7 linked regions of the Homo sapiens genome follow. The protein of the gene in region 1 interacts with the protein of each later gene in a pairwise test. Each region holds a gene or a part of one and is shown in the gene's direction. Other genes may lie near its edges. The genes, in order: GAD2, CPLX4, PLIN3, SDR16C5, DGAT2L6, SEC22A and BSND.

Region 1 (4,159 bases):
ATGATGTTGAATCTTGCCTCCCCACAGGAATGAGGAAACAATCTGGAAAAGATTAAGGAGGAGAAGGAGGAAGAACATAGCATTAATTCACTAAACCCTCTGTTGTCAGACATGCCTGGAGAATTCGGTGTTTTCCACATTTTCTCCTAAGATAAACCCCATGAGAAATAGCCTAAGTATAAATTATTCTTTGAACTAATCTGCTAATGACTAATGGAGCTAAATGCACTGATGACAGCCATCATATTAAGTCCAAATTAACTTGATTAGAACCAATTTATGCAAAAAATAAGACCCCTGATTTAGGTTGCTAAGCGGCATACTAGCTGGTTAAGATATGGATTTTTATTATCATCAGCAAAGGCCCAGTGCCTACCGTTGACTCTCCTCTTACGGAGTTGGCCTTTCATTTTGTCTGCATTTTATTAAATAATCCTAGGACCTAATGATTATTTCCCAATGTTGACAGATTTCTACGGTGGCTAAAACTCAGTAGCTAACAAAAATAAGTAAATAAACTTAAAATTACATCTCCCCCCCACCTTTTTTTTTTTTTTTTTGAAATGGAGTCTTGCTCTGTTGCCCAGGCTGGAGTGCAGTGGCGTGATCTCAGCTCACTGCAGCCTCCATCTCCCAGGTTCAAGCGATTCTCCTACATTCCCTTTTCAGGCCTGCAGGAATAACTTCATTTATAACAACCAAGGTTTCATAGCAAATCTCTGTGTTTGTATGTAGTCATACAAATAGTCAGTTTTCCTTGTGGTTTTTTTATGATTAGCTTTTCTAATTAAAAATGTGGATAACAGAGGGACTGGCAAATGGCTGTGAAAAAAAATACCAGGAAAAAAATATTAAAGGGAAATGGACATCTGGCATCCTTTGCTGAAAATGAATGTTTACTTTCTCTCTAAAATATTAATTTATTTTAACAAGTAGATATTCAGCATCTATTATCGTGTCTAGTACTGAATGGGATAAGAAGGCTCTCATTTTCCAGACAAGATAAGATAAATGCACAGAAATCCATCATAAAAGACAGATTAGGACTGATCACAAAAGAAATCCAGACACATCTGGGGAATTTAAAGGACGGAGAGCTCATTCCTGGTTTAAGAATCAAGATGATTCACAAAGAGATGACCTTTGAGATAGGACTTGAACAGGATAGGTAGAAGAAGTAGGATTTCACCCAGCAGTGCTGTGAGAAGGCCATTCCACGGAGTGGTTGAGCAGGAGTTCAGTGCATATTATGAAAGTGAGGGAAAGTCTAATTGACTGAAGGGCGACTTGGGAGCTATGTTCCAGGTGAAAAGTAACAGAGCCTGAACTAGGGTGATAGCAGCAAAAATTGAGATAACAGCAAGGGATTCGGTAGTTATTTCAAAAGCACTGTCTCTGGGGCCTGTGAATGTTTATAAAAGCATTTCAAGAAGTGGAGAATGATCATGACCAGCTCTCAAGATGTCAAACCCCAAGACCACATAGAGGCAGCAGCTGAACACTTGGATGGTGAGATTGCTGAAGTATTTAATGAATGAAAGAATTTTGAAGAATCTCCTAAAAGCCTTCAAAACCTTGAAAATAAAATGTGGATCTTAATCCCATAAATATTCAATATGAACGGGAGGCACCCAGGGCACACTAGAGTTTTCTGTGTCATTCCCCATGTATATCTTTAGCCCCCAACTAAAGGGGCAGTCACATGGCCCATGATCATCCCCATAGCAAGGTCCCAGACCAGGGGAACCAGAGGTCTTTAGTAATCCCATTGCTGTTGCAGTGCAAACTCTTCTTCATGGGAAATCAGAGAGGCATCATCATTCCCATCTGATCAGAGAGTTGGCCAAAGCCATTCATCTGGACAGGGTCAGAGGCAAGCTGGTCATGCCATATCCTAGATCAGATATGCAAAAGTTTAAACCCAACTCCAGACTGGTCCAAAGGATCCAGGTTGGAGAAGAGCAATTAGCTTCCCTCACTTCTACCTACAGTCCATCCCAAGTGAACCCAAACTGTCAGGTCATTCCAAACCAATTATAATCTCCTTAGCACCCATAGATGCAGAGAGCTCCTGGTATGGGTGCTGGCCAAGCATCAGGCATCAGCCCAAGCTCTTCTTGGGGAGGCATCAGGAACCCATCAGCCTCCTTGAGCCGATTACCTGGGGGAGCAGTCTCCAAAGAAGTGAATTTCTGAACCCATTTGATATCTCCAGGGCAGCTTGTTCTTAAACCTGCTTCAGATGTCACAAGTCACTGGGCTATGTTGGGCCCCCTTAGCTGAGATGATGTGATCTTGTATGAAACAGGCAAGTGGGCCCATCTCATCTCCATTACAATTGCTTTCTCTAGGTTCTCTGCTGGAGAAGTTACTGGTAGGCAGGTTCAAAGTGCTTCTGAGATGAGCACTGGCTTTTACTCTTAAGCTTTCTCCATCAGCACCCAGTAAACACCCAAGGAGATAAGAGGAAAGCCATTTTGAAAAGTAACTCTCTTGTGTGTCCCGATGTCAGTTAAACAGCTCCAGTCCAAGACTGTTGTGTTGGTTTTCCCAAGTCTGGATTCAGAGCTTCCAGAGCCAGAAACTAAAAGAAATCAGTGATAATGTTCACCCATTACAGACACGTGAGTCATTTATCTGCCCCCAAAGGAGAACTGTACAGAGCTCGACAGGCTAACAAAGCATCTGGGTGCTCCCTAAAATTCCTGCATCCATTTGTTCAATGAAGTCAGTGAGCACCTACCCAATTTTTTCTGTATCAGGTACACTGGCAGACAAAGATGGGCTCTGGGAATGGAAAATGTGCACGTTGGAGGGGAACTAAGCAGGCATTCTGGGGGGTCTCTGGTGATGCTTTTTATCTGCAGGAAGAGAGTAGCTCAGCCCTCCTGTTATTAATGACTTCCATGATTATTCCTATGAATAGCAGAGGCACATTTTCCTCTTGAGTAGTCAAACTAATTGCCTGGGGAATGGAGGCTCTGGAAGAAAAGGAGTTCCGTGTAGAAAGCAGTAATGAAAGGGAACAAAAGCACCTGACGGGGAGAGCATTGAAGAGAAAATAGCGCTGAAAAAGCCTTTGGAAACAGCCTTGTGTTGAGAAAGTGCCAGACGGGGCTAAGACAGAGACGGCAGGATGACGGTCAGTCTCCAGGGAAATCGCTTCCTCCGCACTCTTAGCCTGCTTAATGAGCTGTGTCCTTCTCTTACCTAGGGGACTACCGGGTTTGAAGCGCATGTTGATAAATGTTTGGAGTTGGCAGAGTATTTATACAACATCATAAAAAACCGAGAAGGATATGAGATGGTGTTTGATGGGAAGGTATGTATTTGGATTTCTACAATCTCAGAAAGTTTAGTCAATTCCAACCCTCATCACTGATATGATGTAAATGATGTGCTGTCCAGGTAAGTGGGACGATTACAGAGGGGAGCAGTGGATGACGGGGTAGCTATTCCAAGCTGGAATAAAGACGAAACTCTCAAAGTGGTCCATATAACGTTGTCAAAATCATGCCCTCCAATGGCAATTCCTGATTGAAAAGTGGGAATTGTGTTCTGAACCTGCTGAATACATCGATTTGAAATGTTCTTGGAATTTTCAAAATTGCCAGCCTGGGCCAAATGTGAATCTTCCTTTCCTCTTTGTAGCCTCAGCACACAAATGTCTGCTTCTGGTACATTCCTCCAAGCTTGCGTACTCTGGAAGACAATGAAGAGAGAATGAGTCGCCTCTCGAAGGTCAGTGCTCCAAGCTCCTCTGATACATGTGTGTATTGAGCCTTTCATGTGCACATCTTCTTTATGACATATGCCTGTGGCCTTAGGAGACAGCCTACCTGGGTACATGGGCCCATTCCCGTCTGTGGACTCCTACAGAGCCAGGACATATAGAGCCTGATATATGCAGACATTTTTCTTCTTTTTTTTTTTTTTTTTTTTTTTGAGATGGAGTCTCACTGTGTCTTCCAGGTTGCAGTGCAGTGGCGTGATCTCAGCTCACTGCATCCTCCACCTCCCGGGTTCAAGCGATTCTCCTGCCTCAGCCTCCCGAGTAGCTGGGAATACAGGCACTCACCACCACGCCCAGACAATTTTTGTATTTTTAGTAGAGATGGGGTTTCAATATGTTGGCCAGGCTGGTCTCGAACTCCTGACC
Region 2 (4,921 bases), on another chromosome or scaffold:
GCAGATCACTTGAGGTCAGGAGTTCAAGACCAGCCTGGCCAATATGGCAAAACCCTGTCTCTACCAAAAATACAAAAGCTTAGCCGGGCATGGTGGCGCATGCCTGTAATCCTAGGTACTCGGGAGACTAAGGCAGGAGACTCGCTTGAACCCAGGAGGCGGAGGTTGCAGAGAGCTGAGATCCTGCCACTGCACTACAGCCTGGGCAACACAGTGAGGCTGTCTCCAAAAAAAAAGATCCTACACACCAGCTAGTAGTTCCTGGATGTCCAAGGGCAAAGGTCATTGTAATAAATCAAGGAGTAAAAAGTTTTTTAAGTCGTGACCTCATTCTCAATGGAATTACCTGTTGAGGAAATAATAAGATATTTGATTTCATAAAGCACTCTCAGGAGACCTTCCACGGCGACCCTGCTGAAGCTACCACCGAAGAGTCCCCATAATGCATGACACCCCCTCTTCCTAACCCCCTCCACACAAACATACATTCAGAAAAGGACGGGACAGGGAGAAACTCCTTTACACATGGGTGCTGGAGTTTAGAATTGACACCCTCACCATTAATATTTCCTAATTCCTCATACAATGGAATTTTTAGAATAGATTTTATAATAAATCTAAATAATTACTTATAATAAAATGTAGACCGAACAGACAGAAACACAAGGCTGTGGCTTTTATTTTATGGTTTGAAAAGTTCTATGAGACAACATTAATTAGTAACATTCCTCAGTGGACTGCAATGTAGTTTATTATAAATGGTAATTTAGAGATAATGGTATGAACGTGTTAAGTTCCAAGCAACCCATCTAAAAGAGAAAGTGGAACTCAATATTGATGGGCATTCTCCTCGAAGCCCTGAGTACAGCTTATATTTCACCCTAAATTATCTTTTTTAGCCTTTCATATTGAGACCATTTAAGCAGCATTTTAAAATAGATTACTAAAAGGGAAAGCAGACGATAAAATATATAAAGCAAGCATTTTAGGCAAGAATCCAGATTATGTAATTCTATATGATCAGAGAGATAATCACCTGGTTTCTGAGAGGACTCATGCCTTCAGATAAAATAACAATGGATTACATCTCTTCCTTCCCACCCCACCCTCTTTGGCAGGCTTTAATTAGAAAGATACTAGTGTAGATTGAAGTCTTAGCCATACTCAACTCTTCCCTTGACCTGAAGAAAACCACAGCCATAGAGAATCTGGTGGGATACAAAACATTGTCAGTTTCATCCAAGTACACCAGTGAGCTTAAATAGAGCACCCAGGAGGTGCACTCTTTATGCAAGAGAAAAAAGGTGACCCCTTACATATTGATGATTTGACTCACATAATGGTCTTACCTTCTGGATCAGAGCCTTGAAGTGTCAAGCACATCATTTCCATATAGACAAGTAATATTTCCATGCAGGAGAAGGCTAAGATAATCTTCCAGATGTAAACCAAGGACCTGCTGTCTGGGTCTTTGCATTTGTCAGTTGTGTATTTATGTGCGGGACACAGTAACTATTGAAGCAAACCGAATTCAAGCAAACTAAAAAGCAAATCCTTGCATAGTACTTAAAGTCCAATGAGATAAAATGATGGATCGAAAGGATTATTTTTGCTTAATGAAGCATTCTGGGTTTTGAGTCTCATTGGACTCAGTTTTTCAACAGGATGTTTTGCTCAAGGGCTGGAATTTGGAAATTCCACAACAGCTATATAATCAGTCAGCTCTGATTAATTTAATTGAAACAGGACTCTTGATGAAGCCCTGCTGTGCTTATAATTAAAAATTTAGAAAGGGGTAGATGATGTGGGGATTTCTTTTTCCTGTGAAATTAGCTGAGTGTATTAATTCAGAAGGTAGGCAGTTGCCTCTGATTGTATGCTTCGGTAATCTGAACCATCTGCCTCTATATACTAAGGAGTTCACCACTTTAATCCAGCTTACGGCCGACAAACCACTCTTCTCTATCAGTATGCCCTTGAATAGATGAGGTTGTGCAAAGTCCTTTGCTCTTAAATGTATTGCTGTCATTGAGAATATTTGGAGGTTTTCTCTTGGGTTTGTTTGGATTTTTTTTTTCAGCTTTTGTCTGAATTTTGGTTTTATTTTTCTGGGGCAGAGAAAATGGCTTTCCTTATGAAAAGTATGATAAGTAACCAGGTAAAGAATTTAGGATTTGGTGGTGGGTCTGAAGAAAATAAAGAAGAAGGAGGTGCATCTGATCCTGCAGCAGCTCAAGGGATGACTAGAGAGGAGTATGAGGAGTATCAAAAGCAAATGATTGAGGAGAAGTGAGTACATGCTATTTCATTTCCCTTAAAAAGCAAAGGAAATTCATTCTGGCCATACCTTCTTCAGTTCTCCAGTTTATTTCTCTTTGCTTTTTAAGATGCCTTTCCTTTTGCCGTTTACCTCTAACCCAAGGAAAGGTTGTTCTTCTAAAGTAAACGGTTCCCTAACATCAGCAGCTACTATGTTCTATGTTCTACATGTATGAATGGAAATGAACAATAATAAATGAATCTATATGTTGTTCTTAAAGCAGCTTAACACTTTCTGGTCTAGGCATGTTTTGATTGACCTCAATTTAATTATTTAGATGAAAAGTGGTAGGTTTAACTATCTTTACATTCTTTCTAAACTTCACCCTCTTAGCACGTAGAAAGTCTTCAAATTGTAAGAATTCAGACCTTATACCTAGAAAAGGGCCTAAAATAACATAGAGGGCAGCTTCTTTGATCTTGCATGTGAGAAAAAAAAAAAAAACCCAGGAAGCATAACATGACAATTATGTCATAAGACTTGGCTTATCAAAGACTATGAATGGATTTGTGGACTGTTTAATATGGAAATTCTAAACATACAGAAAAGTAGAATAGTAGGACAAATACCCACATATACCTATGACATAAAATCAACAGCTTACAGTTTGCTACATTTGCTTAAAGATTAAAAAGATAGATGGTAGATAATAGCTTTTAAAGTAAATTACAGATGTCATGTACTTCACCCCCAAATACTTCAGCCACCTTCCTCCAAAAAATAAAGGCATTTTCTTGGCTATATAAAATATAACAAAAATAAAATATAAAATATAAGCAACATTTAATTGGGTATTATAGAATGTGAATATCACCAACAACTTTTCACCACTTGAAGACTGATTCTGAAATAAATGTAATCTCTGTGTAATTTTTAAATGTTTAAGGTAGAATTAAGATTCTTTTAATAATCAGTTAAGAAATGAAACATCAATCTAGAGGTTAAATGTTTATCATATGTTTCAAAAGAAAAGTATTTCTTTTTTGCCACCAGGACTCTTTTGCTAATGATCAATTACATAATAGTTGCCTAAATCCTATCGCTAAGATGATTATAGGTGAAAAGGTTAATGACCTGGAGGAAACAAAGAAAGTACAAAGACTACGTTTAGTGGAAACCTTGTCTATTGTATTTTTCTGAAAGAAATCATGGCTTATAGACTACCTAGAATACATTATGCTTGGTTCTGCAGTAACTTAAAGTTGGTTTTTAAAAAACAGTCAATGCAACTAGCAAAAATGATGGTGCTAAGACTTGGGCAAAAGAAGCAGCATTCCTTGAATATTGGCTGATTTTACCTATGGCATGCAAAAGAACAAAAAGCTTAAAAGCAAAATAAGTACTGTGTAATGAAGGATAGAAGACAAAAATCAGCATCAAACATTCTCAGATCAAGTAGGCTAATGAAAACAGAAATGTAGACTACAGTTGTGAGCATGCAAAATATCACCTAATATGTTCAAGCAGCAGATCCGATTGCAGATAAGGCATCTATTTGATTAACTAATGTCCTAGTTTTCCTTAATTTTATATCTGGACAGATCAAAGCTCAAAATGGCCAAATCATACAGTCAATCAGCAGACTGAGTTGTCAGCTACTCAGCTTTTTGCATATGTGTGTGAGAATATTATATATTTATGTAGTCACTCAATGTAAGAAATAGTGTCAGGACAATGGAGCATTTGGCTTCCCTATGATAAAGAGGGATGACTTTCAGTCCATTGTTTGAGTTTTCAAGAATTTCACCACCTAGAATGCAATATGTAGTAGGCATTAAAAATAATTCATCACAAGATAAACGCAGAGAGAGCTACAAACAGTTTAGTATATATAATAATTAAAATCAATGTTAGCAAATGAAAGCCTCCTAAACCCATCCTCATCATTGTAGGAAGTGGGGAGACTATATGAATTATAAATAAAAAACTATTTAGCAATGCACTCTATTTAATAATGCACATTCATTTTTATTTTCTTTCTGTGTTCAATGTGTGTGTGTGTGTGTGCGCACGCACCACTGGTAACATTAGTACTGAAAGAGGTCTAAACATAAATAGACTATCTGGAAAGGAAATAAAACAATAGTCTGTTTCTCCCGCCATTTTCTCAATTATATTAAAATGCTTCTTTGCCATAGTTATGCTTCAACAGTTTCTACAATATCATTTGTAACTTGACTCTGACCTTTGTTTTATTCAGTAATTGTTTGGACCCCTAGTATGAGCATAGCATTGTGAGGAATGTACTGAAATGGAAGAGATGGGTTTTCTTCTGCAGGAATTTACACTTTACTTGGTGGGGGGAGACTAGCTAGCTGCATGTGACTATAAACAGAGCAACCAGCTTTTCTGCGTGATTTGTAGACTGGCTCTGGAGGACTGGAATGTAACTCTGCGTGGCATTAGTATCAACAAATCGATCAATGGGGTTTATAGTTATTTGATTTTCAACAAAAGCGCCAAAATAATCAGACCAGGAACGGAAAGTCTTTTCAACAAATGGTGCTAAACAACTGAAAAACATTGAACTTTGACCCCTACTTAACACTATACACAAAAATTAATTTGTCATGCATCATACACGTAAACATAAAAGCCAAA
Region 3 (4,159 bases), on another chromosome or scaffold:
TACAAGCACACACCATCACGCCCAACTAATTTTTCTTTATTTAATTTTTGGTAAAGACGGGGTCTCCCTCTGTCATCCCAGCTGATCCAGAACTCCTTGGCTGGAGTGATCCTACTGCTTTAGCCCCCCAAAGTGCGGGGATTGGGATTTTTGCAAATAAGTAGCTTAGGATATAGGCAGGGCGCGGTGGCTCAGCCTGTAATCCCAGCACTTTGGTGGGCCGAGGTGGGCAGATCACCTGAAGTCAAGAGTTTGAGACAAGCCTGGCCAACATGGTGAAACCCGGTCTCTACTAAAAATACAAAAATTAGGCCGGGCACGGTGGGTCACGCCTGTAATCCCAGCACTTTGGGAGGCCAAGGCCGGGCGGATCACAGGTTCAGGAGATCGAGACCATCCTGGCTAACACAGTGAAACCCCATCTCTACTAAAAAAAAAAAAAAAAAAAAAAAAAAAATTAGCCGGGCGTGGTGGCGGGTGCCTGTAGTCCCAGCTACTCGGGAGACTGAGGCAGGAGAATGGCATGAACCTGGGAGGCGGAGCTTGCAGTGAGCCGAGATCATGCCACTCCACTCCAGCCTGGGCAATAGAGCTAGACGCCGTCTCAAAAAAATAATAATAATAAAATAAACATTAGCCAGGTGCGGTGGCAGGCGTCTGTAATCCCAGCTACTTGGGAGGCAGAGGTTGCAGTGAGCCAAGATTGGGCCGCTGCACTCCAGCCTGGGCGACAGAGTGAGACTCCATCTCAAAAAAAAAAAAGCATGGGTACAGTAGGAGCAGGATTAAATAAATACATGCAGCTGGGCGCAGTGGCTCATGGCTGTAATCCCAGTACTTTGGGAGGCTGAGGCGGGTGGAGGTTGAGGTCGGGAGTTCGAGACAAGCCTGACCAACATAAAGAAACCCTATCTCTACTAAAAATACAAAATTAGCCAGGCATGGTGGCGCATCCCTGTAATCCCAGCTAACTCGGGAGGCTGAGGCAAGAGAATGGCTTGAATCTGGGAGGCAGAGCTTGTGGTGAGCCAAGACTGCGCCATTGCACTCCAGCCCAGGCAACAAGAGTGAAACTCCATCTCAAAAAAAATAAAGGCCAGGTGTGGTGACTCATGCCTGTAATCCCAGCACTTTCGGAGGCTGAGGCAGCTGGATCACATGGTCAGGAGTTTGAGACCAGCCTGGCCAACATGGTGAAACCCCATCTCTACTAAAAATACAAAAATTAGCCAAGCATGGTGGCACATTCCTGTAATCCCAGCTACTCAGGAGGCTAAGGCAGGAGAATCACTTGAACCCGGGAGGCGGAGGTTGCAGTGAGCCGAGATCATGCCATTGCACTCCAGCCTGGGCAACAGAGTGAGACTCTGTCTCAAAAAAATAAATAAATAAATAAATAAGTAAATAAATACATGCATATACACATATGAACCTACGAACATGGGATGAGGCCAGGCGTGGTGGCTCACACCTGTCATCCCAGCACTTTGGTGGGAGGATTAGTTAAGCCCAGTAGTTCCAGACCAGCCTGGACAACATAGACCCCATCTCTACAAAAAATTTAAAAATTAGCTGGGTGTGCTAGTGCACGCCTGTAGTCCCAGTTGCTATTTGGGAGCTGAGACAGGAGGATCACTTGAGCCTGGGAGTTCAAGGCTACAGTGAGCTATGATTGCACCGCTGCACTCCAGCCTGGGCAACAGAGCGAGACTGTACTTCAAAATATAAAAACCGACAAAACAAACAGATCTAAACATAGAAAAGGTACAGGAAGCCAGGTGCAATGGCTCACACCTGTAAACCTAGCACTTTGGGAGTCTGAGGCGAGCAGATTGCTTGAGTCCAGGATTTCAAGACCAGCCTGGGCAACATAGTGAGACCCCATTCCTACAAAAAGTACAAAAATTAGCCAGGTGTCTTGCCGTAGTCCCAGCTTTATGTAGTCCCAGCTACTCGGGAGGCCAAGGTTGAAGGATAGCTTGAAGCTGGGAGGTTGAGCCTGCAGTAAGCTGAGGTCGTGCCACTGTACTCCAGCCTGGGCAACAGACCGAGACCCTGTCTAAAAAAAAGAAGAAAAAGTACAGGAAAAATACGGTATATATGGTATTATAATCTTATGGGACCACTGTAGTATATGCAGTCCATTGTTGGCTGAAATGTCATTATTCTCTTTTTTTTTTGAGACGGAGTCTCACTCTCACCCAGGCTGGAGTGCAGTGGTGTGATCTTGGCTCACTGCAGCCTCCACCTCCCGGGTTCAAGCGATTCTCCTGCCTCAGCCTCCTAAGTAGCTGAGATTACAGGCTAGTGCCATCACGCCTGGCTAATTTTTGTATTTTTAGTAGAGATGGGGTAGTGCCATGTTGGCCAGGCTAGTCTTGAACTCCTGACCTCAAGTGATCTGCCCGCCTTGGCCTCCCAAAGGGCTGGCATTACTGGCATGAGCCACTGCACCCGGCCTACGGTATTATAATCTTATGGGACCTCTGTAGTATATGTGATGTATTGCTGGCTGGAATGCTGTTATTCTCTGCAGGACTGCATAATGAACATTCAGGCCTATATTCACAGGTTGTCCAAGGCAGGTCTGGCCTGCAGGCCATAGCTTGAGACCCTCCTGCTAGTCTAAGGTCTCTGATTCCTGTGAGGTTTAATTTTCCTTATCCCCGTTTTGCAGATAGGGAAAACCAAGGCAGAATCCTTTGCTCCCAGGCCTTCGAGGTTTATAAGAAGTAGAACTGGGTTATAAACTGGACAGCATGGCCAGGTGTGGTGGCTCACGCCTATAATCACAGCACTTTTGGAGGCCAGTTCGGATGAATCACTGGAGATCAGGAGTTCGAGACCAGCCTGGCCAACATGGTGAAACCCCGTCTCTACTAAAAATACAAAAATTAGCTGGGCATGGTGGCGGGCGCCTGTAATCTCAGTTACTCGGGAGGCTGAGGCAGGATAATCACTTGAACCCGGGAGGCAGAGGTTGCAGTGAGCCGAGATGACACCACTGCACTCCAACCTGGGCGACAGAGCGAGACTCCATCTCTAAATAAATAAATAAATAAACTGGACAGTGTGATTCTTGGGACTGTCTGCATGGGACGAGCCCAGCTGTGTGTTCTGGTCTTCACAGAGACCCTTCTCCTTTTCCTTGCAGCCCGCATCGCCACATCCCTGGATGGCTTTGACGTCGCGTCCGTGCAGCAGCAGCGGCAGGAACAGAGCTACTTCGTACGTCTGGGCTCCCTGTCGGAGAGGCTGCGGCAGCACGCCTATGAGCACTCGCTGGGCAAGCTTCGAGCCACCAAGCAGAGGGCACAGGAGGCTCTGCTGCAGCTGTCGCAGGTCCTAAGCCTGGTGAGGTTCCAGGGGGTCGGGGCCCTGAGCCAGCAGCCTTCACCCCGCAGCAGACACCCACCCAGAGCTCAGTGGCTTATTGCTCACCCCTCTGCAGGCTGGCAGGGCCATTCCCGCTTGCTCCTGGCACTGTATCTGGTTGTACACTCATTTGCTCAGGATGCTGCCACAAACCACACTGTCTGGGGCCGGGCACAGTGGCTCACACCTCTTTGTGTGAGTCCCTCAAGTGCTTTGGGAGCCCAAGGCAGGAGGATCGCATGAGTCCAGGGGTTTGAGACCCACCTGGGCAATATAGCAAGACCCCATCTCTACAAAAAATAATTTAAAACAATTAGCTGGCTGTGGTGGTGCGTGCCTGTAATCTCAGCTACTTGGGAGGCTGAGGTGGGACGATTGCTTGAGCCCAGGAGTTGGAGGCTGCAGTGAGCTATGATTGTGCCACTGCACTGCAGCCTAGTCAACAGAGCAAGACCCCATCTCAAAAAAAAAAAAAAAATCGTGGCCAGGTGCGGTGGCTCATGCCTGTAATCCCAGCACTTTGGGAGGCTGAGGCGGGTGGATCACGAGGTCAGGAGTTCAAGACCAGCCTGGCCAACATGGTGAAACCCCATCTCTACTAAAAATACAAAAATTAGCCAGGTACAATGGCAGGCACCTGTAATCCCAGCTACTCAGGAGGCTGAGGCAGGAGAATCGCTTGAACCCGGGCGGCAGAGATTGCAGTGAGCCGAGATCATGCTACTGCTCTCCAGCCTGGGTGACAAGAGTGAGACTCCATCTCAAAAAAAAAAAAAAAAAATTC
Region 4 (4,159 bases), on another chromosome or scaffold:
CTTCATGGTGTCTGTCTCTCTCTTTTCTTCTTTTCTTCTTCTTCCTCTTCCTCCTTCCTCCTCCTCCTCCTTCCTCCTCCTCCTTCCTCCTCCTCCTCCTTCCTCCTCCTCCTCCTTCCTCCTCCTCCTCCTTCCTCCTCCTCCTCCTTCCTCCTCCTCCTCCTTCCTCCTCCTCCTCCTTCCTCCTCCTCCTCCTTCCTCCTCCTCCTTCCTCCTCCTCCTCCTCCCTCCTCCTCCTCCTTCCTCCTCCTCCTCCTCCCTCCTCCTCCTCCTTCCTTCTCCTCCTCCTTCCTCCTCTTCCTCCTTCTTCTTCTTCCTCCAACTCCAACTCCTCCTCTACCTCCTCTTCCTCTTCCTCCTCTTCCTTCAGTGCTGGTGTTTCCCTGGCTCCTACCACTCCTCATGTCATCTCACTCCCTTTACTTCTTCTGGGCAAGTTCATGTACATTCTTTGAGCATCTGCACATTGCCAGGCACAAAGACAGTGACTTAACTGCTAGAGCGTCCAAGAGCTACCTGAAGGCTGGGCTCTCAAAGGCAGTGTCCCTACTGAGAAGTGTCCCAACTCATGGCAGACCCCAGAGTGTTTGCTGCACTGCTTCCTTTTGCTTTGTTTTGATTTCCCACCTCTCTCTACCTGTTAGTTTCTCTCTGAGACTTATTGCAATGCAGGCAAACAAGTGAGGTTTGGCCTTTGTAAGAGATCCCTTTTCTCACCTCCTTGTCTTTGGTGTGATTAGTTACTCCTTTGATGCAGAAGATGTCTTCCTTAAAAGCTCATTTCTGTCTCTTTTACCTTCTTTCTCCAGGCCCCCAATCAAGGGTGAAGGTGTTGGACAGAATACAGATGTGTCCTCTTTCTAATAGATATTCTGTTTTACGAAATGGAACAAAAATAAGAGATGAGTTTAAAACAAAGTGCTCTTTTAAAATTGAAGTCAACAGCCAGATGTCCTGTGAACAATGTTCAGGGAAAATTTGAAACTCAAAATCAAGCTAAGCAGAGAGAAGGCAATCTAAATCTAAAGCATCATGTTTGTGAGGTTTGGGGTTGTGGCTGCCACAACAAAGATTTACTCCTTCAATTCTTGTTTTAATATTGTGTCGTTAAAAGTCAAATATGAGCAAAAACATAAGTCTGAATAAATTATTTTAATAATACTGGAATTGCCATAAAAAACTGATTTAACAGGTTAAATAAGTTAAAATGATTACTTTCCAGATGTTTAAGTTTTTATATCCCCATACCTTCAGATATTTTACAGGCTGAAAAAAAAAGATTTTTTAATCACAATGAGTATATAAATATCTGAGAAAATTATACAATGTGGCATTAAACATTAAAAGTTTTCCTTTGTATTCTTAGACTTATAAAGCCTTTCTACCTGCTATGATTGCTAATGACCATGGACATTTGGTTTGCATTTCAAGTTCAGCTGGATTAAGTGGAGTAAATGGGCTGGCAGGTAAGAAAAACATAGCAATTTACAATTGCAAAATTCCCTATAACTTTAACTTACACAATAGCTCTGAATAATTAGCACTGACTTGATGCCCTAAGATAAAGGATAATAAACTAAAAAGTATAGTCAATAAGTGGTTGATAACTTCATCGTGTAGCAAAACTGCCCATCAGATAGACTTACATGAAATTGGACTATGCCCTTTGGAATCATTAGGTCTTATGCAGTACCCTGTGTTTAAAAGAGAGAGAGGCCTCACTGATAAATTTTTTGCACAAGTGATCAACAAAACAACTGTCCACCAAAGTTCACACTGACACTGTCACAGATGGTAAGGAGGATGACCCTGTCTTCTCCTGAAGTTTCCTTTAAGTGGTCTCCCCACTGCTGTGAGTTTGGATAAAGTTTCTACACCTCAAGATACCTAAAGTTAACTGCTTTGTTTTTCCACTGGTTGAAGACCTGCAGGAAGTGGTGGGCATTTTCATCTCCCTTGCAACAACCAACTGACTTGACAGTAGCAGTGGGGAGAGGGCAAAGAGATCCTTCAAGACCCTCAACCAAGGAGGCCCAACTTGGGAGCTGGCTCTAGAAGGAATAGAAATCTTGACCTAACCTACCACAGCATCCCCTAGAGGAAATGTCCCAAGTCCTGGCTTACAAACATTGCTAAAACTCATCCAACAGAACTGTAGCAGCAACATTCGGATAACAGATAAGCCAGTTTGCCAGTTGGGTGGTTCCTAATGCTTTTGAAGCAAAGTGGCGTAGTTCAAGATTCACAAAACCAGTCTTAGCTCAGTATATCTATTACATGAATAGGTTTTTCAGGACCACCAGTCACCCCAAATATCACCAGTCTATCCTCCTTATGACCCAGGACTTCCCTTCCTCTCTCCTTCTTAGAACTTATCAGGTATTATTCTTACCTCCCTCTTATATATCTGTTGTCACGGGCCTTTGAAATCATTCAGGTATATTTACAGCTCCTTATCAATCCTTTTCAGACAGAACATTCCTGTCTTGAGATACAGGACTCTCGCACCTGCAGCTCATCTTAGAAACAAGTATAAGCCTTTTGTATTTCCCACCGTGTGAGTCTTTACTCCCCTGCATCAGAACCACCGGGGTGCCAGTTTAGCATGCAGATTCCTTGGGTCATGGGCCATATCTGCTCATCAGAATCTCAGGGGTCAAGGGACTCAGCTGCATTTATACCTGATGACTCCAATGACCCTAGAAGCTGCTCTGGACTCCTCGTCCCCCTTCCCAGTCTCTAGCCTCTGACCCACTGTCTGGACAGCACTAGGGCTGGACAACCCCACGCCTGGCGCTTATAAACTGGCTCTTGCCAGTTGCAGTAGCTGCACCGTAACATAGCAAGTTTAAATATGCCTCCTCTGAATGTGTGGAGCAAAGGAAAGTGTTAATGTACCTCAATGCCATTTCTTCTCCAAACTTCTTCACTTAGTCAACTGAATAGTCAGATGTTTTGTTAAAACAGGTATGATTAAAGACAAAAAGCTGAAAATGGACACAAATGCCACTTTCCACTCCTTCCTCTGCCCCCACCCTACATTTTCAAGGTATTTAAGAGGTGGAGGTTGAAGCTACCAAGCCCTTTTTTTTTTTCTGGAAGTGAAGGAAAGAGTTATAGTTGGAAGAAAACTTCATCTGAGAATCACAACCCATGCTGGCCTCTCTTGCCTAGATTCCTATATCACTTAGTGTTTTATTTCTTCTTTTGAATGTCTTCATGCCCCAATGGGATTGCAATTTTTTGAGACAAGGCACCATGTAAGAACTAGCACAGGGGCTCACAATGCATTTACTTGTAAGTAAAGTCCAGCAGTGTGACCTGAGACAGGATCTCTGCAGCCCTTCTTGTGCTGGGCTCTACTTGGTCATTGTCAACTGACCCTGATCTTCAGTTAACCATGTCCCTTCCCACTCCCTGCTCACTTCTTCCAGTGGGAGTAGACCAAGATTACACAAAAGGAGAACTCTGAAATTGTCTTATTTTCTGTCGCTGTTAGCGTTATGGGTAAACCTTAATGTAATGCCATTTTAAAACTTTGGAATATACGTTATCATGCTTTGTCTTTTTCAGATTACTGTGCAAGTAAATTTGCAGCCTTTGGGTTTGCTGAATCTGTATTTGTAGAAACATTTGTCCAAAAACAAAAGGGGATCAAAACCACGATTGTGTGCCCCTTTTTTATAAAAACTGGAATGTTTGAAGGTTGTACTACAGGGTAAGTATGTCCTTTAATTTCAAAGAATCTACACTCTTAAAAATGTTTTGCTATTTTATTTTGTTCTTTTTTTTAAGTTGTTTAAAATATATTGTTCTGGGATTCAGTATGATTTATAAATGGTTTTAGAATTCTGTCTTTCTTAGTATGTGTTTGTGTGAAGGATACCAAGTTGAATGGGAATGGTTTATCAAGGCAGTGTCTCTCAGCTCCCCCAGGCCCTGGATCTGCTCCTCCATTTCCCAGACTCTCAGGGCCACATCCCCTTCCTGCCATCCAATCCCATTCTGCTCCCTCTCTGATTCCAGGAGGACTAGAAATAACTGGAGAGACATTGTCTTGGTCATATAGAAGGAGCTGCTATAATGAAGTATCATACACTAGGTGGCTTAAACAAGAAAAATGCCTTTCTCACAGTTCTGGAGGCTAGAAGTCCAAGAT
Region 5 (3,020 bases), on another chromosome or scaffold:
AAGGTGAGCGCAGGGCAAAGATGGGAGACAGAAGTGAGAAAGGCTAGATGATTGTTGTTAAACAACAGGGTGTCATTCACATTCCATTATTCATCTACGTTTCAGTTTGGCTTGGTCAGGCTCAGGGGTCTGCCTACTCTCCAGAAACCCCAGCCATTGGCTTCCCTTTGGCAGGTTACTCTTAGGGAGGAAGCAGGTTGGTGGTGGCTAGTCTCGATTACCCCTGGAGGAGAGAACTCTGGAGGATCTCCAGTGTTGTCAGGCTGGGCAGAGTGGAAGATGGCTGTGCTTCATGGGTAGAGAGGGATGAGGTGGGCTTAGATACTATTGATCTGAAATGCAGTAGGCTATGGATGGTAGGAGGCAGAGGAGCTCAGTATAGACCCAACTGCAGAAGCACAGACCCCCAAGGCAAACAGCTGACCCTAAGGACCAATCTTAGGCTAGGGCAGTCATAACCCGGGACACGAAGGTCAGAGACAGAAAGGTGGAAACAGCAATAGTCAGAAAACAGAAGAACTGTCTCCAAAAGGAAGAGCCTGGGAAAACCCCTTACCCCATCCTCAGGAATGAAGTTTTTCTACCACTTGACTCTTTGGTTTCACAGGTGTGTGCCCTGTGAGTAGCTCAGCCTTGAAGTACTTGCTGACCCAGAAAGGCTCAGGCAATGCCGTGGTTATTGTGGTGGGTGGAGCTGCTGAAGCTCTCTTGTGCCGACCAGGAGCCTCCACTCTCTTCCTCAAGCAGCGTAAAGGTTTTGTGAAGATGGCACTGCAAACAGGGTGGGTTCCAAGGTTCTAGTGCTCTGTTGTCAGGGTGCCATAGGCCCTCTGTAGCCCTCTCCAGAATGGTGCCCTCCCTGGGCACCTGTTAGAGGGCCCCCATCTTCACTCTAATTCCTTCTGTCTACCCCCTCACATTGTGCCTTAGGGATGTTTGGGCCTCCAGATACATTTCAGTGGGCACTTTTCTTACTTGAAGTTGGAGAAAGAACAGCAGAAGAAAACCTTTTACTTTCTGCCCATTGGCCTGGTAGGCTGGAGGTCTGGGAAAGCGGGGCTTCACTCTATATCAACCTGTTAACTGAGAGGCCCTAAGAATCTACCAACTGCAAGGGAGGCACTAGCTTTGATACCGTGAGGATCAAAAAGATAAGACATGACCCCAAAGAGCATACAATCTGGTTTGAGAAATAGACCTTATTCATTCAGCAGTTACGGAACACCCACTGTATATCAGGCATAGTACTAGGCATTTAGGATATAAAAGTAAATAAGACCTGGTCCTTGCAAACTCACAGTCCAATATGGAAGAAGACAGACCCATGCACATATAATTACCAAATACCTGCAGAATCCAACCACTTACTACCTAGGCTACCACCCCTTGGTTTACTACCACCATCTCTCCCCTTGGTTGATTACAACACTTCTAACTGCTCTTCCTGTATCTATTCCCACCTCCCCCACCCCAAGAGTCTATTCCCAGCTTCAGCCAGGATGATCCTGTTAAACATGAGTCAGATCATGTCACTTCTCAAAATAATCCAATGGCTCCCATGTCACTCAGAGTAAAAGCCAAAGTCTTTATAGGGGCTTGCAAGACGCGGAATAATCTGGTCTATAGCTGCCTCTCTGTCCTCATCACTCACTTCTCTTCCCACTCTCTCACTCCATCATAGCTATACCGGCCTCTTTGCGGTCCCTCAAGCAGGCCACCCGCTCCTGCTTTAGAGTCTTTGCTTTAGCGGTTCCCTTGGAACACTATTCCTCCAAATGACTGCTTGGCTCATTCCTTTATCTCCTTCAAGTCTTTGCTCAAATGTCTCTTCTCAATACAGTTATCTGACCATCTTGCTCTATTTTTTGCCGGTTACACTTATCTTCTTATAGCTCATCCATTTTATTTATTTGTTTACCAACTATTTTCAATGTTTATTGTCTGTCTTCCTCCCAGAAAAAGTAAACTCCACGAACACAGAATTTTTAAAAATCCATTGTATTCACTGATGCATCTCCAGGGCCTAAAACAGTGCTGGCACATAGAAAGAGCTTAATATTTGTTAAATAAATGGAACACTACAATGGAAATGTGTACAAAGTGCCACGTGAGCACCAATTTATGGAAAGATCTTGACCCAGAATAGAGGTTTCATAGGTGGGTAACATCTGAACTGTGAATTGAAATATTGGTAGGAGTTGCCAGGCAGACCAAAAGGGAGAAAGAACTCAGGCATTCAGTGAGGACCTATGGCATGTCAAGTGCTATGCCAGGGCCTAGGGATTCAAAGATGAATATGACCCAGTTCTTGCCTTTGATTGGCTTGCTGTCTACTGGGGGAGTCAGGCAAGTAAGGAGATGACTATAATACACGGTTGGGGCAGCGTTAGTGTAGAAGAGAGGTAAGCACTAGATGAGGGGTACCTAATCCGCGTTGGGGGAAATGAAGTGGTCAAACAAAGTTGCTTTAAGGGGATGAGATTGGGACTGAGTGCAAAATTGAATGAGCCACATAAAGACAGAGGGAAGAAGGAAGATACTTCCGACAGAGGGAGCAGAATGTACAAAGACACAGAGATGAGAGAGTATGAGGCACACTTAATATGGCTAAGCAGATTGCAAGGAAAGAGTGGGGAAAGGGAAAGCTAGCCAAGGAGGGAAGGCTAGAGCAAAAAGGCCGTAAGGAAGCAGCATGGTGCAAACTGAGGAGCTCTGGAAGAGTTTGAGAGGAGTGGCATGTCCAGATATGCAGTTTACGAAGAACACTCTGCATGCTGGATGCAATGAAGACAGAGCTTTTGAGATTAGTTTCTCCCTATAACAGGACAAGGCAGAGCAGCAGCTCCCTTCAGAGTTCAGTTGGGAGAGTGAGGCATGGCAGGAATGGGACATGAAGATGGAGATGTTTGGGTGCTTGGGTTCTTGTCCTATAATGGGGAGGTTGGAGAGGTTTCCCACCTTGGAGAGGATTTTTCCGGGGATCTTCCTCAGAGAGCTCACACTCCTGCCCCTCTCTTTGC
Region 6 (4,159 bases), on another chromosome or scaffold:
CCCACCTCGGCCTCCCAAAGTGCTGGGATTACAGGCCCCCACCATGCCCGGCCTCTTTAGCTTCTTTTGATTGGCAACATTTCCACATCCTTTATTTCTTTTTTACAACCCTGGCACTTTTAAAGAATACACTTTTTCCTTTTCAAAAATAGAATGTTGATCATTTTGGTGTTTTCTTAATGATTAAATTCAAATTATGCATTCTCAGAATATTATATAGCTGATGTGTCTTTCTCAGGATATAACATCTGGAGACACACAATGTCCATCTAACATGAATGATGTTAGAGAGTACTTGGTGAAGGAGTTACCTAGTTTCTACTGTATAATATTTTCCCCTTGCAACTAAGAAACAATCCATGGAAAGACATTTTAAAACCATGCAAATATACTAACCCGTAAAAATTTCCCCCTAGATTTAACATCCATGATTGTCCTTGCCTGATCCAATCTTTACTATGTTGGTTGCAAAATGCTGATTTTTCCATTGCTAGCACTTCCTCTACGTTTACCAGTCAACACTCAGCATTCTGCTTTAAGCCATAGCCCTCATTTCTCCTTTTGTTTTTTATATAAACTCATAAATTCCCCCCTCCCATGGTTCATAATTAATTACTGTGTAAAGTAGAGGATTTGATTCTGGGGTGTGTCAATGATAACTTCAAGAGGTCAGTGATCACCTTGAAATTGTGTGCAATCTTCTGTGTTCTGGCATCTTTCTAGGGAGAGTGTTCCTGTCATCAGAATCTTGAAAGGGTTCTGGACTCAAAAGTGGAAAACATATTGAAGGGTTAGACTTTAAGCTATCTGTAATACTTACAATACATTTGTATATCCATTCCCCTGCTTTTTACCCCAAGTGATAACTGAAATGTTAGAACCGTATTGTGTGTCCCTCTGTAGTACATTCTATTTTTTGTCTTCTGTTTTTAAACCACAACTTAAAATAGTGCTGTATTTTGGTTCCTTTAAATTTTTTCCTAGAATATATAATAAATGTTAAGATCTTCATTGCCACCGTAGTAGCAGTTTATGGTGTATAGAACCAGTCTTGTGAAGCAGTGAATTACCTTGATTTAATTTGAAATTTTAAAACCAATGTTTTTTACACTGTAGTTTTATTAGCTCTCTGGGAGTGAGCTACATGATGTTGTGCACTGAAAATTACCCAAATGTTCTCGCCTTCTCTTTCCTGGATGAGCTTCAGAAGGAGTTCATTACTACTTATAACATGATGAAGACAAATACTGCTGTCAGACCATACTGTTTCATTGAATTTGGTAAGGGCCTGATTTTTTTTTCCTTTTTATTCTGTCTGCATCCAATCATAAGCAATTTTAAATCTAATATTGGGTGGAGGGGGGACTTCTGCTATCTTGCTTTTGATATAATAATTTGGTAAATGATCTATAAATTATGGTAACTTTTTACTTAGATGCTTATTAGAAAAAAATTGTGTTTGAGCTGTGAAGGGGATTGTGAGTATTGGTCCGAAGAATTAATGCCAGAGGATAACTTCTCAATGAGAAATTTATAAGCCAGAGATTCAGACTTTTGCGTTTCTGTAATAATCTTTTATAGTCTGCTTCATGTAGAATAGGGGATGGCAAACATTTGCTGGAAAGGACCAGATAGTACATATTTTAGACTTTAAGGATCATATAGTCCCTGTCACAACTATTCAGCCCTGCCGTTGTAGCTCGAAAGCAGCCATAGGCAGTACGTAAATGAGTGCAGTTATATTCTAATAAAACTTTACAGAATAGTCAGCAGGCTAGATTTGGCCTGTGGGCAGTAGTTTGCTCAACTTCTGATGTAGAAGAAAAAAAAAAAACACCATGTTGTAAATAGTAAAAATAAAATTCCACTTGGAAAATATTTAGGAAATGTCTTATGTTAGTTTTATTCAATTTATTCTTTAAAACCTACATTCTAATGGTGTAAGCAATAAAAAACAGATTTATAAAAACATGCAACTTCTAGTGTGTGTTCTTATGTAATTGCAGCTGGTAAATCTGACAGATTTAATATTTCATGAGATAGGAATCTCTATAAAAATCAAGACTTTGGGCCAGGTGTGGTGTGGCTCATGCCTTTTATCCCAGCACTTTGGGAGGCCGAGGCAGTAGGATCACTTAAGGCCAGGAGTTCGAGACCACCCTGGGCAACATAGACCCTGTCTGTACAAAAATAAATAAATAAACTGGGCATGGTGGCTCACACCAGTAGCCCCAGCTGCTTGGGAGACTGAGGCAGAAGGATCACTTGAGCACAGGAGTTTGAGGTTACAGTGAGCTATGATTGTACCACTGCACCCCAGTCTAGGTGACAGAGCAAGACCCTGTCTCAAAAAAAAAAATTCAAGACTTTGGTTTAAAGTTAAAGCTGTTTTTTGTTTTTGTAATTTCTTGAAGTGGATGTAATACACTTAGGTAGTGTTAAATCCTTAGTTTATTTAAAATTACTGATTTCTAGAGGGTAAAACTGATGATTCCATGATACATTAATCATTAAACACAAGTAATATTGGACTATTTCATGACGAATTGAACAATTTTGAATAATAAACTACCTGTAATATTTACTATCCATAAACATCATATTCTGAAATGATTAATTGACAAGTGACTGCAAGGAAATTTATTTTTTATTTTACATAGATAACTTCATTCAGAGGACCAAGCAGCGATATAATAATCCCAGGTCTCTTTCAACAAAGATAAATCTTTCTGACATGCAGACGGAAATCAAGCTGAGGCCTCCTTATCAAATTTCCATGTGCGAACTGGGGTCAGCCAATGGAGTCACATCAGCATTTTCTGTTGACTGTAAAGGTGCTGGTAAGATTTCTTCTGGTGAGTTCTGGATCTCAGTTATTTTATTTTAAAAAAATCCTTGGGAAAAACTGAGAAACTCTTGAAAATGAATTACTTTATTCTAATATTTTAAATCAAGTACATGAGAGAATATAGAAGTTCAAAGCAATCCTTTCAGTGATTTATAAAGTAAGCTACCAGATGTGTGACTAATCGGGAAAATACTTTCAAATAGCAACCTCAGAGGATCTCTTTGCTAGAAAAACATTTTTTTAAATTTAAAATTAAAAAAAGTTAATTTTCATGGGTACATATTCGGTGTGTAATATATTTATGGGGTACATGAGATATTTTGATACAGGTATGCAATGTGTAATAATCACATTAGGGTAAATGGGGTATTCATCACCTCAAGCATTTATTATTTCTTTGTGTTATAAACATGTCAGTTGTGCTCTGTTAATTTTTAAATGTACAATAAATTATTGTTGACTGTAGTCACCCTATTGTGGTATCAAGTACTAAATCTTATTCATTTTAGCTAACTATATTATGTACCCATTAACCATCACCCTTTCTCCCACCCCCACTACCCTTCCCATCCTCCAGTAACCAAAATTCTACTCTCTTATCTCCATGAGTTCAGTTGTTTTAAACTTTAGCTCCCACAAATGAGTGAGAATATGTAAACTTTTCTTTTCTGTGTCTAGTTTATTTCAGTTAATAAAATGTCCTCCAGTTCATCCGTGCTGTTGCAAATGATAGGATCTCATTCTTTTTTTATGGCTGAATAATACTCTGTTGTGTATGTGTGCCACATTTTGTTAATCCGTTTGTCTGATGATGGGCACTTAGGTTGCTTCCAGGTCTTACCTGTTGTGAATATACTGCAGTAAACATGAGAATGCAGATGTCTCTTCGATATGCTGATTTCCTTTCTTTTGGGTATATAGCTAGCAGTGGGGTTGCTGGATTATATGATAGTTCTCTTTTTAGTTTTTGAGGAACCTCAAAACTACTACTGTTCTCCATAGTGGTTGTACTAATTTACATCCCCACCAACAGTGTTCCCTTTCTTCCACGTCATCACCAGCATTCATTATTGCCTGTCTTTTGGATAAAACCCAGTTTAACTGAGGTGAAATGATGTCTCGTTGTAGTTTTGTTTTGCATTTCTCTGATGATCGGTGATGTTGAGCACCTTTTCATATACCTGTTTACCATTTGTATGTCTCTTTTGAGAAATGTCTATTCAGATCTTTTGCCCATTTTTTAATTGGCTTGTTAGATTTTTTCATATAGAGTTGTTTGAGCTCATTGTGTATTCTAGTTATTAATCCCTT
Region 7 (4,725 bases), on another chromosome or scaffold:
GCACCTGGACTCTGAGGGCTGGCGATGGTGGGTGTGAGGAAGGAGAAACCCCTGTTGGAAAAAGGGCCTATGAGAAGGACGTCTAGTTAGAGGGGCAGCTGTGAGCACAGGTGTGGGGTTAGGGAACAAGGGCAGCCCTGCTGGCAGGAGGGGAGAAGGTGATGACCGCCAACAGGAAATCCCCAAGCCCAGCAAGTCAGGGAGCCCATTGAAAGCCTTTTATCCTGCATCGGCGATTTAACCCCATGTAAACGCCAAGTGAACATTCTCTTGTAGAGACCGATGGTCCTCATTTTCCTGTAATCCTGTAAAGGAATCTGATTTCTTCCATCAGCCTGTCCCTAGGACTAAAATGCCTCATTAGTGTTATTCTTAGGAAGGCATCTTCCTAGATCAGGCTGCAAGGAAATGGAGGAAGTGACTGTCAGTCACTCACACCCTGCAGGGGCACTAATTCCGAGAGCCTTAGGGGTGGGTGGGGAGCAGTTCATTGAAAGCCCAACTGGGTGGTGCATAGCGTGTGAATGTGAAGGGGATGGAGGAACCCAAGGAGGCCAGGCCTGGAGACAGCACCAAATCTGGGAGGTACATTATTATTCCCATTTTACAGAGGAGGAAACTGAGGTAACCTGATCATGACCACACTGCCCCACAGTAGAGGAGCCAGAATCCAAACCCAGGCAGCCTGCCTTGCCACCAGAGCCACGCTTTTCACCCTCAAGCTGCAGTTAAGAAGTATCACGCCGTGGCTAGGCCCACGGCCTCTGGCTTCACATCCCACTAGCTCTGCCATCTTTAGCTGTGTGACCTTGGGCAAGTTACTTGTCTGTGCCCGAGGGTCCTCTGTAAAGTGGGGATAGTAGTAGCTGCTTCACTGGGTTCCCTTCAATGAGTTAATAGCTGTAACATGTTTAGAATGGTGCCCTGCACATAGTCACCAGCCAGTACATATGGGCCATTATTCCTGAACCCTGGATAGGCACATGTCCTTGAAGAGTGTAGAATTCTTCAGGATTCTGAAATGCCAGCCTGTGGGATCCTGGAATCCTCCAATAGCATTCTAACAGCTCTCAGCTGCAGAACTGTACCCTGTTTTCTAGAGCTGGAAGGTGTGAGGCTGCCTGTCCACCCAGCTCAACCCCACAGTAGGCAAATGAGGTGATGTCAAAGCCTTGGCTGGGGCCCAGCCCCGGTAACCTCCCACTCTCCCTCCCCTGTGTGCTCCCTCGCTCAGATTCACACACACACTCCAGGCCAGCCGGGCCCAGAGGGAAGGTGAGAGGGCAAGGAGTAAAGGTGGCTGGGTGTGGGTCCGTTGAAGCGAGCCGCCTCCAGCCCTGTTGAACTGGTGGGCCCAGGGACTGGAGCGGGATTGAAAGGGATCTTGCTCTCCCTTGAAGCCTTGAGTTGCAGCGATTTCAGTGTCTTCTCTCCCTGTGTAAGCCTGTCTCGGTGTTTAGGCTGAACTACAGCCACCCCCTCTCCCGGGGGTGTGCAGGCCAGGGACTGGCCAGGCAGCCATGGCTGACGAGAAGACCTTCCGGATCGGCTTCATTGTGCTGGGGCTTTTCCTGCTGGCCCTCGGTACGTTCCTCATGAGCCATGATCGGCCCCAGGTCTACGGCACCTTCTATGCCATGGGCAGCGTCATGGTGATCGGGGGCATCATCTGGAGCATGTGCCAGTGCTACCCCAAGGTAGGTGGTAGTGGGGCTGGGTGGGGCCAGGTCAGCTGGGGCCAGGAGGGCTGGACACTGTGCCTGTATGCCATGCCTCACCCCCTATCCTTTAGTTGTCTTTTCATTCTTCTCATTTTGACTCGGTCTTCTCTCTGCTCTCCTGAGCGTCTGTCCCATCCATCCATCCATCCATCCATCCATCCATCCATCCATCCCTTAGCCTAAGGGTTGATCAGAAGGCCCCTGGATCTGGAGCCCTGAGCCGGAAGCTATGGTATAGACACAGCAAACACAACACACCATGTGCTTGAAACAAAAGCTAATGAGCGCTGACCCCCTGCCAGGCACTCCTGCGTTCAGGGTGCAGTTCAGCCCTCATCCTAAGCCTTTTGGTGCTTTCTGTAGTTCCACCTTCTGAGCCTTTCTGAGGTCCAGAAAGAGAGGCTGCACAGCTAACGAGCAAGGTTTGGAGCTCAGATGCGTGTGACTTACACGTCACCCTTCACCTTGGGTCTTCTACCTCTGGGTCCCAGAGCGACTGAGAGCTCCAGGGTAGGTCAGGTCTAACCTTGGTGGCATGCACTGGGCAGTATCCTTTAGAGTCTTCATGTATTCTCAGCCTTATGTGTAATTTAGTGATGGGAAGAGCACTGGTTTGGGAGTCCTGAGTTCTAGTTCAAGTCCTGTTCCAAACTCTCTATGACCTTTGTCTTTCTGAGCCTCATTTTTTTCATCTGCAAATGAGATCCCTGCCCCTATTTTCCACAGAGCTTCACAGGGTCATTATAAAGATCAGAGAAGAGATAAGATATAGGAATATTTTGTAAACTGTAAGGTGTTATTTATAGATGAAGGGCTACCACTGTTACCCATACTGATCCTCCCAACAGCTCTGTGGAATGGAAATGCCAGGAGTTGCGAATCTTCAATGCCTAGAGAGGCTGGGTGACTTCCAAGGTCACACAGCTGGTCAGGTACAGACCCAGGGAGAAAAGGAGGGAAATAGGGACTCTAACTTGGGCTCTGTCTCTTACTGCCTGGGAGACTTTGCTCAAGCCCCTTTCCTCTCTGAGCCTCAGTTTCCTCATTTGTACACTGTGTGAGTTAGGAGGGGGGGGTGGGAAAGGGGGTATATCTGGGGGCCCTGCTGGACCTAATATCTAGGGCTCCAGGTCCAGGCAGTCCTCAGCAACCCCCACACCTCCTCTCCTCCCACCTGGGTGGCTGTGCTCAGGGTTTCAGGGAAGAAGGGGGATGGCTCCCTGGGGCCTGGGCCGGCTCTCCCCAGCCCTGCCCCCTCCACGGGCCAACCCTGGGCTGTCATTCTGTTCAGTGCTGGAGCGGTCTGGGCTGGTTTGTAGTCATTTAGCAGGCAGTTTACAGTCAACTTGCCTCTGTCTGTGCAATTCCTTGAGCAGAGGTCACTGGGAGAAGTCCTTGGGGCCAAAGCCACTCATGTCACCACTGCTATTATAATCCTTCTCCCAGTGAGGAGGCTGGACCCTGGGGGACAGCAGAGGGATGGCAGAGGTGTGGAGAGGAGCATCCTTCCTGCCCCCGCTCTTAAATAGAGCTGGCTCTGGGATGGTTGGTAGGCTGATGGGAGTGACGGTAGAGGGGAGGGGAGGGGAGGAGGGAATATTGCTGGGTATTAATGAGTAACTGTTGATAGATTCATGGGTTCACGTGCTGTGGAGGCAGCGTGGTGGGCTGAAAATGGCACATGTTGTGGCAACCTCCAGGCCCAGATTCAAATCCCTGCTCCTTCATGTCCCACTTCTGTGACCTTGGCAGAAAGAGTCCCTCCCCCTCAGCTCTGAGCCTTGTACGGCTGATTGGGAGAACACAGTGGGATCGTGTGTGTGTGTGTGTGTGTGTGTGTGTGTGTGTGTGTGTGTGTTGGGGGAGACCTGGCATCACACCTGCCATGGAACATATGTGAAGGCATTGTTCTTAGGATTGAGGATTGGTATTTGCGGCACTGGGTGGGCCTCTGCATGAGTGCAGGTGTGTGTGAGTGTGTGTTTCAGAGATGCAGGCTGGTAGAGCCAGCACAAATTGACTCCAATAAGGGAAGGGAGGAAAGCACCTTATAAACCAGGGAGACACTCTAGAGGCGAAGCTCCCTGGATCCTGCTTGGTCTCATTGGTGCCTGGGCCAACGCTGCCTGCAGTGCTCCTGCCTGTCCTCCCCTCAGCCTCCTCCCCGTGGCTCTCTGTGCCAGACCTATGGAAAGTTTTGATAAATGGGGAGATATAAATATAAGGGAATAGAATTAGCTAATTAGGATATAGGGGTGAGGGGTAGCCAATACCAACATGCATTAAGCTGTCCATGTCTTTTAGGGGCTAGAGGTCTAGTGGGAGAGGCTATTTGCTGCCTGATGGGGAGGAAACAGGCTTCACAGAGAAGGTGAGCTGGGCTTTGTAGGTGAGATAAGAGTTCACCAAGCAGAGAAGATGGGGAAAGACATTCCAGGCAGAAGAGTAGCATGATCAAAGCAATGTGGTAAAAGAATAAGGCAAGTGGGCCATTGTGGCTACGAGAGGCAGAGGGGAGGAAGGTAAAGGTAGCGAGGGAGTGGGGCTCAACTCTTCAGGGCCTGGGATGCCATGGTAAGGAATTTGGAGCTTGTCCTTTAGTTAATGGGACACGACCAGCTTTGCAGTTTGAGAAAGACATCCAGAAGAAGGAAGGTCTGGGGGCAGCCATACCAGTGGGGAGGCTTCTTCTCTGGTCTTGGTGAGAGCTGACAGTCATCTGGAATAATGCAGAATTCAAACACAAAGCTGTAGGAACTAAGGTGACATTTACAGTTCACTTCACATAGAGTACCCGTTGTGGCTAGGCATAGCACCAGCACTTCCACCCAGGTTATCTTATTGAATTTCTGAAGTAGACCTGGTCAGATTTGGTGGTCAGCTGGGCCTCAGGCATGAGAGAGGAGAAGGGATCAGGGCAAATCTAGTGGATGGGACAGTTGGAGGTGCTGAGCCCATTAGTGAAGATGGGGCAGGGGAGCTGTGAGCAGGGAAAGGAGTGGCA

Evidence for each region.
Region 2: the proteins of GAD2 (region 1) and CPLX4 interact in binary tests that used the Homo sapiens proteins (3 or more experiments, as listed by UniProt).
Region 3: the proteins of GAD2 (region 1) and PLIN3 interact in binary tests that used the Homo sapiens proteins (3 or more experiments, as listed by UniProt).
Region 4: the proteins of GAD2 (region 1) and SDR16C5 interact in binary tests that used the Homo sapiens proteins (3 or more experiments, as listed by UniProt).
Region 5: the proteins of GAD2 (region 1) and DGAT2L6 interact in binary tests that used the Homo sapiens proteins (3 or more experiments, as listed by UniProt).
Region 6: the proteins of GAD2 (region 1) and SEC22A interact in binary tests that used the Homo sapiens proteins (3 or more experiments, as listed by UniProt).
Region 7: the proteins of GAD2 (region 1) and BSND interact in binary tests that used the Homo sapiens proteins (3 or more experiments, as listed by UniProt).

What each region holds. Positions count from the first base shown.
Region 1 is NC_000010.11:26,289,251-26,293,409, forward strand, and holds part of GAD2 (glutamate decarboxylase 2), read left to right. Parts: intron 1-3,214; coding exon 3,215-3,322; intron 3,323-3,651; coding exon 3,652-3,741; intron 3,742-4,159. UniProt on the Homo sapiens protein: Catalyzes the production of GABA.
Region 2 is NC_000018.10:59,315,664-59,320,584, reverse strand, and holds the start of CPLX4 (complexin-4), read left to right. Parts: upstream 1-1,935; 5' UTR 1,936-2,122; coding exon 2,123-2,289; intron 2,290-4,921.
Region 3 is NC_000019.10:4,846,886-4,851,044, reverse strand, and holds part of PLIN3 (perilipin-3), read left to right. Parts: intron 1-3,154; coding exon 3,155-3,354; intron 3,355-4,159. UniProt on the Homo sapiens protein: Structural component of lipid droplets, which is required for the formation and maintenance of lipid storage droplets. Required for the transport of mannose 6-phosphate receptors (MPR) from endosomes to the trans-Golgi network.
Region 4 is NC_000008.11:56,306,235-56,310,393, reverse strand, and holds part of SDR16C5 (epidermal retinol dehydrogenase 2), read left to right. Parts: intron 1-1,366; coding exon 1,367-1,466; intron 1,467-3,573; coding exon 3,574-3,718; intron 3,719-4,159. UniProt on the Homo sapiens protein: Oxidoreductase with strong preference for NAD. Active in both the oxidative and reductive directions. Oxidizes all-trans-retinol in all-trans-retinaldehyde.
Region 5 is NC_000023.11:70,201,283-70,204,302, forward strand, and holds part of DGAT2L6 (diacylglycerol O-acyltransferase 2-like protein 6), read left to right. Parts: intron 1-607; coding exon 608-782; intron 783-3,020. UniProt on the Homo sapiens protein: Diglyceride acyltransferase that uses fatty acyl-CoA as substrate. Particularly active with oleate as a substrate. Has no wax synthase activity to produce wax esters.
Region 6 is NC_000003.12:123,222,443-123,226,601, forward strand, and holds part of SEC22A (vesicle-trafficking protein SEC22a), read left to right. Parts: intron 1-1,116; coding exon 1,117-1,280; intron 1,281-2,660; coding exon 2,661-2,855; intron 2,856-4,159. UniProt on the Homo sapiens protein: May be involved in vesicle transport between the ER and the Golgi complex.
Region 7 is NC_000001.11:54,997,667-55,002,391, forward strand, and holds the start of BSND (barttin), read left to right. Parts: upstream 1-1,266; 5' UTR 1,267-1,520; coding exon 1,521-1,697; intron 1,698-4,725.